Homo sapiens: one gene and its partners. The protein of the gene in region 3 purifies or fractionates together with the protein of the main gene of each other region. This does not show direct contact. Each region holds a gene or a part of one and is shown on either strand. Other genes may lie near its edges.

Region 1 (3,650 bases), on a different chromosome or scaffold from region 3:
GTGGCATAGCAAGACTCCGTCTCAAAAAACAAAAACAAAACAAAACAAAAAAAACAAAGAAAGTTAAGTTAGTTGAACACAGTATACTAAATTTTGAGACATTCTTAAATATGAATTATATTGTTAGTGTACAATCTACACTATAGAAAACCTAATGTCTTCTTAAAAGCGCATGTCAGTACCCAAATCAGTAAAATTCAATAACCTGAAGGTTCTAGTTCACTAAGAATTACTGTGGGCTATATCTGCAAATGCACAGAAATTAAATAGAGCACAAATCACTTGGAAAAAGGCCTCTAAATTCTTTCATATTCAATCTACTTTAATCTGTCTGATTGCTTTGGAGCCCAGCAGTAACACCAATCTCATTGGTAACACTGTGTAGAAATAAGCAGAGAGAGGCCGGGCGCGGTGGCTCATGCCTGTAATCCCAGCACTTTGGGCGGCCGAGGCAGGTAGATCACCTGATGTTGGGAGTTTGACACCAGCCTGACCAACATGGAGAAACCCCATCTCTACTAAAGATACAAAATTAGGCATGGTGGCACATGCCTGTAATCCCAGCTACTTGGGAGGCTGAGGCAGGAGAATTGCTTGAACCCGGGAGTCAGAGGTTGCAATGAGCCAAGATCGCGCCACTGCACTCCAACCTGGGCAACACAAGTGAAACTCCGTCTAAAAAAAAAAAAAAAACAGAAAGAGAGAGAGAGGGAGGGAGCGAGAGCGAGAGAGAGAGAGAAAGAGAAGCAGATATAAGCCCTAATGCAGTGCTGAAAAAAGGCATGAACATCTTGGGCTTACTATGACATGATGAACAATGGGCACTAGAGGATGGCACATACAAGAGGATACTGCCCTACGGCAGTGAAGAGCACTACATCTCAGCCCTCCAAATCTCAGCTCCCCACTAGCAGGTCCACCTATACATCCCCCTACTATCTTCTTACCCAAACCAATAGTCCTTCTGGCCCTTATTTCCAAAAACACCACAAATATTTCCCCAGTCACTCAAGTTCAAAGCTACAGTGTGATTATTAAATCCACTTAAGGAATCTGAATCATCTCCATCCTTACCCTGTAATACCTCTCACATTCATTCTCCCTTCACATCCCCATTCCCACCATCCTAGTTTAAGAAATTGTACCTTAAACCCAAGTTTCCCAACAAGGTCTTGATGTCCCCACAGCCAAATTTGTACTCCAAAACATTGTTTTGAACAAGTCATCCAAGCCTTAAAAAAGCATCTACAGATCTGGCAGTACAGCCAACAGAAACCTATCATGAGCTTGGACAAACACCAAGCACCTTCCAGAAGAAGTTTCTGGACCCAGGGCTCAAGACCAAGTTCTGCAAATTCCCTGTATTTGCTACTTCTTGCCATCCCCTCTTTCTCCATAGTGATAAACAATTAAGTCTTTCAAAAGAAAAGGGTTTATGGCTCGTTTTCATGGACAAGCAGCAGCAGGTGGACAGCATCCTAAACCATGGCCAGTTCTGGAGGGGAGCAAAGCCCAAGAGAATCAGTGGAAGCAACTTAAAACATAAAAGGCCAGGCCAGGCATGGTGGCTCATGCCTGTAATCCTGACACTTTGGGAAGCCAAGGTGGGCAGATCACTTGAGGTCAGAAGTTCGAAACCAGTCTGGCCAACATGGTGAGACCCCATCTCTACTAAAAATACAAAAATTACCTGGGCATGGTGGCGGGCGCCTGTAATCCCAGTTACTCGGGAGGCTGAGGCAGGAGAATTGCTCGAACCTGGGAGACGGAGGTTGCAGTGGGCCAAGATTGTGCCACCACACTCCAGCCTGGGCAAGAGAGCAAGACTCCCTCTCATTAATTCATTCATTCATTCATAATTAAATAAATAAATAAGGCCAGGCATGGTGGCTCACACCTGTAATCCCAACATTTTGCTAGGCGGAGGCGGGAGGATCACTTGGACCAGGAGTTGGAGACCTTCATGGGCAACATGACAAGACCCCATCTTTACAAAAAAAACCAAAATGAGCCAGGCATGGTGGCACTCGCCTGTAGTCCCAACTACTCAGGAGGCTGAGGTGGGAAGTTCACTTCAGCCTGGGAGGCCAAGGCTGCTGTGACCCATGATTATGACACTGCACTCCAGCCTGAGCGACAGAGCAAGACCCTGTCTCAAAAAAAATTAAAAAAATAAATTTAGGCCAGGCACAGTGGCTCACACCTGTAATCCCAGCACACTGGGAGGCCAAGGCATGTGGATGGCTTGAGCCCAGGCAAAGGCTGCAGTGAGCCGAGATCACACCACTGCACTCCAGCCTGGGCAACAGAGCGAGACCCTGTCTCCATAAAATTAAATTAAAATTTAAAAATAATAAAACACAAAATAAAAAAATGTTTTAAAAAGCAAACAAAATCCCTGGTCTGTGGGTACATGAAGAAGTCTGAGATGATGAGCTCAAGAGTTTTATTTTGAAGACTTTAGGATGAAATCCAATATCTTACTCTACATATTAAAGAAATGTCCATGTCATGTGTAAGAGGGAACACATAATAAAAGGAAAGTTAAACATAAGTGGGCTATACCAAGAGCATGAAGTGAGTACCTTTGAGAGTTCAGAGGAGAAACCAAAAACATCAAGGACTTAGGCAATGCAAGAGGTCAGCATTCTAAATAAATCAACCAATTTGGTGGAAGCAGAGAACACAAAAGACAGCTGCGAGAGACTATATAGCTGTCCCATGGTTCTAGTCCATTTTCACATGCTTTCTGGTCTCCTCTCCCCATCTGGACTATCAGTTCAGAGGCCAAGAACCACCACAATGTGTTAACCTATTAGCTAACTATCAGTCACATCTTAAGAATTCAGAAAACAATGGTAACAGTTTTAGTATATTTAATCTCAGAACAGCATAACATCGAGGTGCACTCTGAATTCAGATTTTTTTAAATACCTATATTAAAAATAGAAAAACTTTCTAAAGTTAAGAAATAAGGATACTGGCGAGAATGGTGGCTCATGCCTATAATCCCAGCACTCTGTGAGGCCAAGGTGGGAGGACTGCTTGAGGCCGGTTGAAGACCAGCCTAGGCAACAAATGGAGGCCCCATCTCTACAAAAAGTAAAAATAAAAAAATTAGGCAGGTGTGGTGACATGTGCCTGTAGTCCCAGCTACTCCAGGAAGCTAAGGCAGGAGGATCACTTGAGCCCAAGAGTTAGAGGATACAGTGAGCTATGATCACGTCACTCCACTCCAGCCTAGGCAGCAGAGTGAGACCCAGTCTCAAAAGAAAAAAAAGAAATCAGGATAATGAGGCCGGGCACGGTGGCTCATGCCTGTAATCCCAGTCCTTTGGGAGGCCAAGACGGGCAGATCACCTGAGGTCAGGAGTTCGAGACCAGCCTGACCAACATGAAGAAACCCCGTCTCTACTAAAAATAAAAAATTAGCCAGGCGTGGTGGCAAGCGCCTGTAATCCCAGCTACTCGGGAGGCTGAGGCAGCAGAATCGCTTGAACCTGGGAGGCAGAGGTTGCGGTGAGCTGAGATCGAGCCACTGCACTCCAGCCTGGGCAACAAGAGCGAAACTCCGTCTCAAAAAAAAAAAAAAAATCAGAATACATGAATCAAAGCAAGAATTTCTAAGCACCCAGACACTCTTAACACTC
Region 2 (3,650 bases), on a different chromosome or scaffold from region 3:
ATCGCGCAAGAGGGGCTGCTGTGCGGTGAGTGGGTGGCGGGCACGGGGGTATGGGGAAGGCAGAGATGGCTAGGGGGCACTGGGGATGGCTGGGGGCGCACCCTCAGTCAGCCACCGACCTGCATGTGTAAGACAGCAGTTCTGAGGAGTGTCACTGCGGCGGCCACGAGCCTCAGGTGTTGTCTGCCTGCCCAGTGTGGTCACCTGCTCAGGTGAGGGCAGGAGGCCATGGGGCGGGGCTTCGAGCTGCCTTCCAGAATGTGTTTCTAGAACAAGGCTGAAGCTCTCATGGCACTTATTGTTTCTAATCAAGTCCACCAGGGCCCCTGGGGCGGTGGCTCTGCATTGACGGGGCCCATGGCCGGGACTGGGTGCTGCGAGCACCCTGGAGCAGCTGGGGAGGGGACTGGAGCCTGAGGCTGTCCAGCTCGACCCCGCTCACCTTCCTCCTACCCCGTGCCCCTCTGCCCACCTGCTTGGGGGTGGACAGACCAGGTGGCCGCTGGCAATGCCACTGACTAGCCACACAGGCAGCAGAGGCCCTGTAGGGACCACAGTTGATCTAGACCTCTGGGGACTCGGAGAGCACACACCAGCTTCTAAAACGCAGGCAGGGACATGTGAGGTTTCTACATGTGCATTCCGTGTGTCATGTCACTTTGGGGGTGGTGACAGGGAAAGTGGAAGGAAACCAGCCCTCAGCATGGCCAAGTCCCCCGTTAGCTGAGCCCCAAACTAGAGATTGGAAGAAAGTCTTGATTGAAAAACCATTTCCCAGCCAGGCGCGTTGGCTCATGCCTATAATCCCAGCACTTTGGGAGGTCGAGGCGGGTGGATCACCTGAGGTCAGGAGTTCAAGACCAGCCTGGCCAACAGGGAGAAACCCCGTCTCTACTAAAAATACCAAAAAAAAAAAAAAAAGTAGCCGATGTAATGGTGCATGCCTGTAATCCCAGCTACTCGGGAGGCTGAGGCAAGAGAATTGCTTGAACCTGGGAGGTGGAGGTTGCAGTGAGCCGAGATCACGCCATTGCACTCCAGCCTGGGTGATAAGAGCAAAAACTCCATCTCAAAAAAAAAAAAAAGAAAAGAAAAGCATTTTCCAGATGAATCTGTCACGAAAGGTGACTTGGTGCCCATAATCGTTGGGCTCTCCCTGTCTCAGTCTCCCTGCTCCCCATGTTGGTGGAGAAACAAGCCCCTGCCTTTGGGGCTGGAAAGCAGGTCCATGGGCCCCGTTACAGAGGAGGGTGCCTCTCTTCCTGTGGGGGCTCCTACTGCAGACTTAGACCTTCCCGACTGCTGTGTGCACCCTCAAACTAAGCCCAGAGAAGACGCCTCTGACTCTGACTTCAGGGCTCCTAGGGACAGCTGGTGTCACTGTGAGCCTTGGTCTCTTGTTTATAAAGCAGAGCCCAGTGTGCAGTCAGGCAGCCTGCAGGCGTGGTGCTGGGGGCTCCGTCCTCGTAGCATCGCTGGCTCTAGGCTCAGGGCCAGGAGGTTTGCCAGGGGCCGCAGCCCCACTGCAGGCATTTCCCTGGCACCAGTGCCCACCCCAGCTCATTATGAAGCCCCGAGTGGACACAGAAACTCCATGGTGCACAAGGAAGAAGCCGATGCTCACGGAGAAGTGGGGTCCTCCCAGCCCCTCTCCCCGAGGCAACCCCTCTTGACGGATCCTTCGGAGTGTGTCTGACATGCTCCCATGCGTGCACGTGCACAATTCATGCATACGTGTGCACCCACGCACGCTCACCCTGGCGCGTCTGACTCGTGGCCCTCTCTGCAGGTGGCAGTGCTGGCAGCACGGTGGCGGTGGCCGTGAAGGCCGCGCAGGAGCTGCAGGAGGGCCAGCGCTGCGTGGTCATTCTGCCCGACTCAGTGCGGAACTACATGTAAGACACGGCTTCCCTCCCAGGTCCCTGCTCCTCTCCATCCTGCCACCCTTCCCTGGATGCCTCTCACGCCTCACCTGAGAACCGGCAGCCAGAACTGGGAGGGGAGGAGGCCAGCGGGGCCCTGTGAGCACCGCCTCCACTCTCCTGCCCACGTGCCCTCACGCTGTGGGGCTTCCCAGCCTCTTAATGCTGTGAAAATCAATGCACACTCGCAGTGACAGCCCTGACAGGAGGGGCATGAAAGACGGTGGCTCCCTCTCTGTCCCTCCTGTCCCTTCCTCTCTGGTGTCTGTCCCCCTCACTGCTCTGGGGTCCGTGAGCTCCAACGGGTAGCCCTGGCCACATGGACTGACGTCCTCTTGGGCCGGGCCCTGTGCCACCTCCTATCCACCCTGACTCCCTCTGCTGCTTCCCCCAAACTCCAGATTGGGACCGAGTGCTGCCCAGGTGGCCCCCTAGGACTTGCTGTGACTGTTTTGCCCAGAGGCCCCTCGGACAGTAACGCCACAGACCTCGCTGGTCACCGGGCAGCCAGGCTGAGACTGGCGCTGCTCTGCACCTGGTCTCCGGAGGCGGTACCAGGGCGGGTGTCTACAGACCCCCATGCCCTGTCCCCTGCACCTGCAGGGTTTCCTCCATGGCCTGCAAGCTGCAGCGGCTACACAGCTCCCGAGAGCTCAGCTGCCCTTGGAGGGCCAGGCCTGGCTGGTGGGTGCCCCCAGTTGGGTTCCCCAGTGTGGGGTGATTCACATCTGGTGCCCAGGGTCAAGATGCCCTGTGCAGGGCTCCTGCCCACCCCCGTCAGTGCAAGAACACCATCTCCCCACATACTTGGCCAGCCTGCCATGTGTACCTGTGCGTGTGAGTGTGTGAGGGGCAGAGAGCGAGCATGAGAGGACGTGTTTATCTGAGTGCCTGAGCGATGGCTGTGTGCATGCTCACACACGCTTGTTGGCCATGGGGGCGGGAAGTCCAGCCCCCAGGCTTCCCCCTGGGGCTTCCAGCCAGCACTTGGGGGTCTCTGCTGCACCAGTGAGGTCCAGGAGAGGGGCTGGGCAGGCAGTGCGTGCCACTCAGCAGGGGCGGGGGCCCGGTGGGGCCCTGCGGGGACTCGGTGACTCCCCCATCCCGCAGGACCAAGTTCCTGAGCGACAGGTGGATGCTGCAGAAGGGCTTTCTGAAGGAGGAGGACCTCACGGAGAAGAAGCCCTGGTAAGACCGCTCGGCCGGAGACCCGCTGCCTGTGCTGGCCCTGCCCAGTGTGACAGGCAGGAGAGCACTCCCCCGTGGCCTGTGCTGGCCCTGCCCAGTGTGACAGGCAGGAGAGCGGTCCCCGTGGCCTGTGCTGGCCCTGCCCAGTGTGACAGGCAGGAGAGCGGTCCCTGTGGCCTCCTGCTGAGGTGCTGCCGGCGGGGGTGCGAGAGCGTTTGTCCTTATCCTGATCCCCCCGACCTGCCCTCTTCCCTCAGGTGGTGGCACCTCCGTGTTCAGGAGCTGGGCCTGTCAGCCCCGCTGACCGTGCTCCCGACCATCACCTGTGGGCACACCATCGAGATCCTCCGGGAGAAGGGCTTCGACCAGGCGCCCGTGGTGGATGAGGCGGGGTCAGTCTCAGCCCCTGCTCAGAGCTCAGTCCTGGGTTCTGTCTGCCCAGCTCCACCCCGTCAGTGTCACTGGACAGGGCAGCCATGCAGACCCTGCAGCTGGGCTGATAGGCCCGCCTGGGCCGCCTCATACAGACGTTCAGGGCAT
Region 3 (3,311 bases):
GATCAAGGCGATTTTTATAACCTAGAAGGGCCTGGACTGTAGAAGCAGATTCCAGCTGAGGCCCAGGCACTGCCTTGCTGTGGTGAGCACGGCGGCTCTGCTCTTCCCCGCCGAGCTTTCTCATCAGTGAAGTGGGGTAGTGACAGCATGCGAGGGCACGGAGCTGTCAGCAGGCTCCAGAGACCATGGCCATAAAGCACTGACACTGACACGGCCTCAGCAAGCCCTTGGGGAAGGGCAGCCACCACCGTTGCTGCTGCTGTCACTTACTGTTGCTGTTGATTTAAGGCAGTACATACTCAGGTCTCATAGCTTGTAAAACAAAGGAAAAATGAAAAGTCACCATCATCCCAGCAAAATGTAAGGCTCCCCTGCTGCCCAGATTGGAATGTGCTCGGGAGGGCCCTGGCAGTCTGGGCTCCAGCAGGCCTGGGTGGGCCTGGGTGCCTGTGCGTCTCACCCACTCCCAGGGCGTGTGGATGCAACTCCTCAGGGTCACACTTTGAATAACAAGGAGCTAATGAGTAGCCTTCCCAAAAATGGGGGCCAAATCCCTCACCTTCCTGAGCCCTCCCACGGGGAGAGGGAGGGTCTTTTATGGAGCGTGGTGCTTCATGCTTCATCGTTCAGAAGGGAGCGTGGTATCCAGAAACAGGGAAAGCATTGCTGAGTAACGTGGCGGAGTGAGCAGGCTCCAGACAACGCATCCACCAAGAGTTCTTCCATGCGCTGGTGATTCCCCATCCAGCAGTAAATGTTGTTCATGTTTACAGATGATAGCTATGGAATACAGGCCTTTCGTGAGTGGCAAATTTCTTATTCTTTAAAAAAAAAAAAAGTTGGGTTCAGGATAAGCTAGGGAGAAAACTTTATGTGATCAGAACTAAGGCAAAAGAATGCTTGAAGTACTAGAAAATTAGCTCCAGTAGGCTGAGGACATAAAATTATGAAACAAATCGCCTGCCCTCGCGTGGGTGTGCATTTTACCAGTGCCAGTCCGAGGCGAGAGTGATGGAGTACCTGAAGATTTTTCAGAGGTTTGGGGTTTTTAAAAAATCATAACAAGACAGGACCGTATCACCCTGGAATAATGTGTAATTCGTGGTTGTGAGGCTTTAAAAAGCCGAGGCTTGAGCACATGGTAGCAGTATTACCATTATGCATGGATCCAGAATGATCAGAAAGAGCCAAAGGCATTTGTATTTTCTCCCTTCATCGTTTTACTTAGGTAGAAAATAATGTCTGAAAATGGCTCTGTAGTTCAAGGAACGGTGCCCAAACTCTGAATTCAGATGCGAGTAGAAATACTCCGTGGAGCAATATTATAAGATGTTAATACAACATTCCTAACAACTGTTTAAAGAGTCACTTGGTAGGCGGGCGTGGTGGCGTGTGCCTGTAATGCCAGCTACTGGGGAGACTGAGGCAGGGGAATCACTTGAACCCGGAAGGCGGAGGTTGCAGTGAGCCGAGATCGCACCTCTGCACTCCAGCCTGACAGACTCCCTCTAAAAAAAAAAAAAAAGCCGCTTGGCCATTGAAATGCTGTGTTCAGGTTGAAAAGTAAATACATGTGTATCTTATATAAAGTGTGTTAATTCTAAGTTGGTTTTCTAAATTACTATGATTTCATTATTGTAAGAGAGAAAAAAAGAGGGAAACTAAGTTTGAGGTCTTTTTAACTAAGGACAGTTGCCAAAAGCCATCTCCCTGTTCTTAATTGCTACCATTGATCAAGCTCAGTTTTAAAAAACACAAAAGGGCAGCCGGGTGCCGTGGCTCACACCTTTCATCCCAGCACTTTGGGAGGCCGAGGCAAGCAGATCACTTGAGGTCAGGAGTTCGAGACCAGCCTGGCCAACATGGTGAAACCCCATCTCTACTAAAAATACAAAAATTAGCTGGATGTGGTGGCGTGCGCCAGTAATCCCATGTACTCCAGAGGCTGAGGCGGAAGAATTGGTTGAACTTGGGAGGCGGAGGTTGCAGTGAGCCAAGATCGTACCACTGCACTTCAGCCTGGGCAACAGAGTGAGATTCTGTCTCAGACAGAGAGAGAGAGAGAGAGAGAGAGACACACACACACACACACACACACACACACACACACACACACAGTGAGATTCTGTCTCAGACAGAGACACACACACACACACACACACACACACGGAAAAAATGCATTTCAAAGGAAACTACTAGAAATGTTCATATTCCCTTTGACCATTTTGCTTTCGTGAGTTTTCTCTGTCACAGGTTTCCTGCCAAGTTAATTCAAAGCCCAGTGGGACTAACATGCTCCTCTCTGCAAAATATTCTCCAGAGCTTCTGGGAATACCTCATAGCTACTGCTACCAGGATACCAAAATATTTCCCAAATACACTTGCAGCTGGAAGCAAGATATAACATTTCCTCTCTAACTCCTTCTTGCCTGTGCTTTTCAAATAACCTCAGCTGTGAATGGAGGGCTTAGAAGTAAACAGTTGTCTCTTATTTGTTTGAAGGACCGAGTATCAGTTTTCACAGATGTGAATGCTTGCATTGCATGTGTGAAATGCACAGAAGGTCTTTATGTTCTGTTATAAATCACACTGCATGTATATGTTAGAAATTCAAGGCCTGAGAGGTCTTTCTTTAATGCTCAGTGCTGGGAGATGGCTGAAGTAATCAGGCTGCCTATTTTTAGTGCCACCTTTTGGATGCTTAGGAAATTGACATTTTAAAGTAAATTAAATGAACATAGTCCTACTTGTCATTTCTGCGATTAAATCAATTCCAACGCAGCTGTGTGACCGTAGAATGGTTTGTTTTATTATTGCTGATCAAAATAACTATTATGAGTAGCAGAATTCTAGTGCCTGGAAATCTAACAAGAGTAGTTTTGAGTTTAGAAGAATTAGCTCAACTGTCTTTAATATAAACTTCAAGGCCTTACACTTGAATAACAAATACCAAAGCAGTTTGACAGCTTTGAAAAAAAGTTAGTGGAATGTGCAAGATTTAGTTGGTGTTTATGCTGGCTGGACTTCACATACCCATATATACTCTGTGTTACTCATTTAAGTGCGCTTTTGTATACAGTTGTCACCATCAACATTGGCCCTTATTACTGAAATCTGTCAGCCTCATTTAAATTTTTGCAAATGTGATTTGGGAGATGTAAATATAAAAGTGAGCAGCTCTGTGCAGATACATTTTTGTGTGAGGCAGAAGTGCATGACTGGTGTCACATGCAGAGGGTGAAGGCTTTAGGAGTTACGGAACATCAAAAGCCTTCTTCAGAGTGACTGTCTGTCTCATGTGACTAGCATCG

What was found.
Region 1: the proteins of RTF2 (region 3) and TENT4B purify together in Homo sapiens (affinity purification with mass spectrometry, with the first as the bait; one large-scale study listed by BioGRID). This does not show direct contact.
Region 2: the proteins of RTF2 (region 3) and CBS fractionate together in Homo sapiens (co-fractionation; one large-scale study listed by BioGRID). This does not show direct contact.

What each region holds. Positions count from the first base shown.
Region 1 is NC_000016.10:50,156,290-50,159,939, reverse strand, and holds part of TENT4B (terminal nucleotidyltransferase 4B), read right to left. Parts: intron 1-3,650. UniProt on the Homo sapiens protein: Terminal nucleotidyltransferase that catalyzes preferentially the transfer of ATP and GTP on RNA 3' poly(A) tail creating a heterogeneous 3' poly(A) tail leading to mRNAs stabilization by protecting mRNAs from active deadenylation.
Region 2 is NC_000021.9:43,058,686-43,062,335, reverse strand, and holds part of CBS (cystathionine beta-synthase), read left to right. Parts: coding exon 1-25; intron 26-1,789; coding exon 1,790-1,895; intron 1,896-3,032; coding exon 3,033-3,110; intron 3,111-3,367; coding exon 3,368-3,502; intron 3,503-3,650. UniProt on the Homo sapiens protein: Hydro-lyase catalyzing the first step of the transsulfuration pathway, where the hydroxyl group of L-serine is displaced by L-homocysteine in a beta-replacement reaction to form L-cystathionine, the precursor of L-cysteine.
Region 3 is NC_000020.11:56,513,526-56,516,836, forward strand, and holds part of RTF2 (replication termination factor 2), read left to right. Parts: intron 1-270; exon of another isoform or gene 271-312; intron 313-559; exon of another isoform or gene 560-780; intron 781-3,311. UniProt on the Homo sapiens protein: Replication termination factor which is a component of the elongating replisome. Required for ATR pathway signaling upon DNA damage and has a positive activity during DNA replication.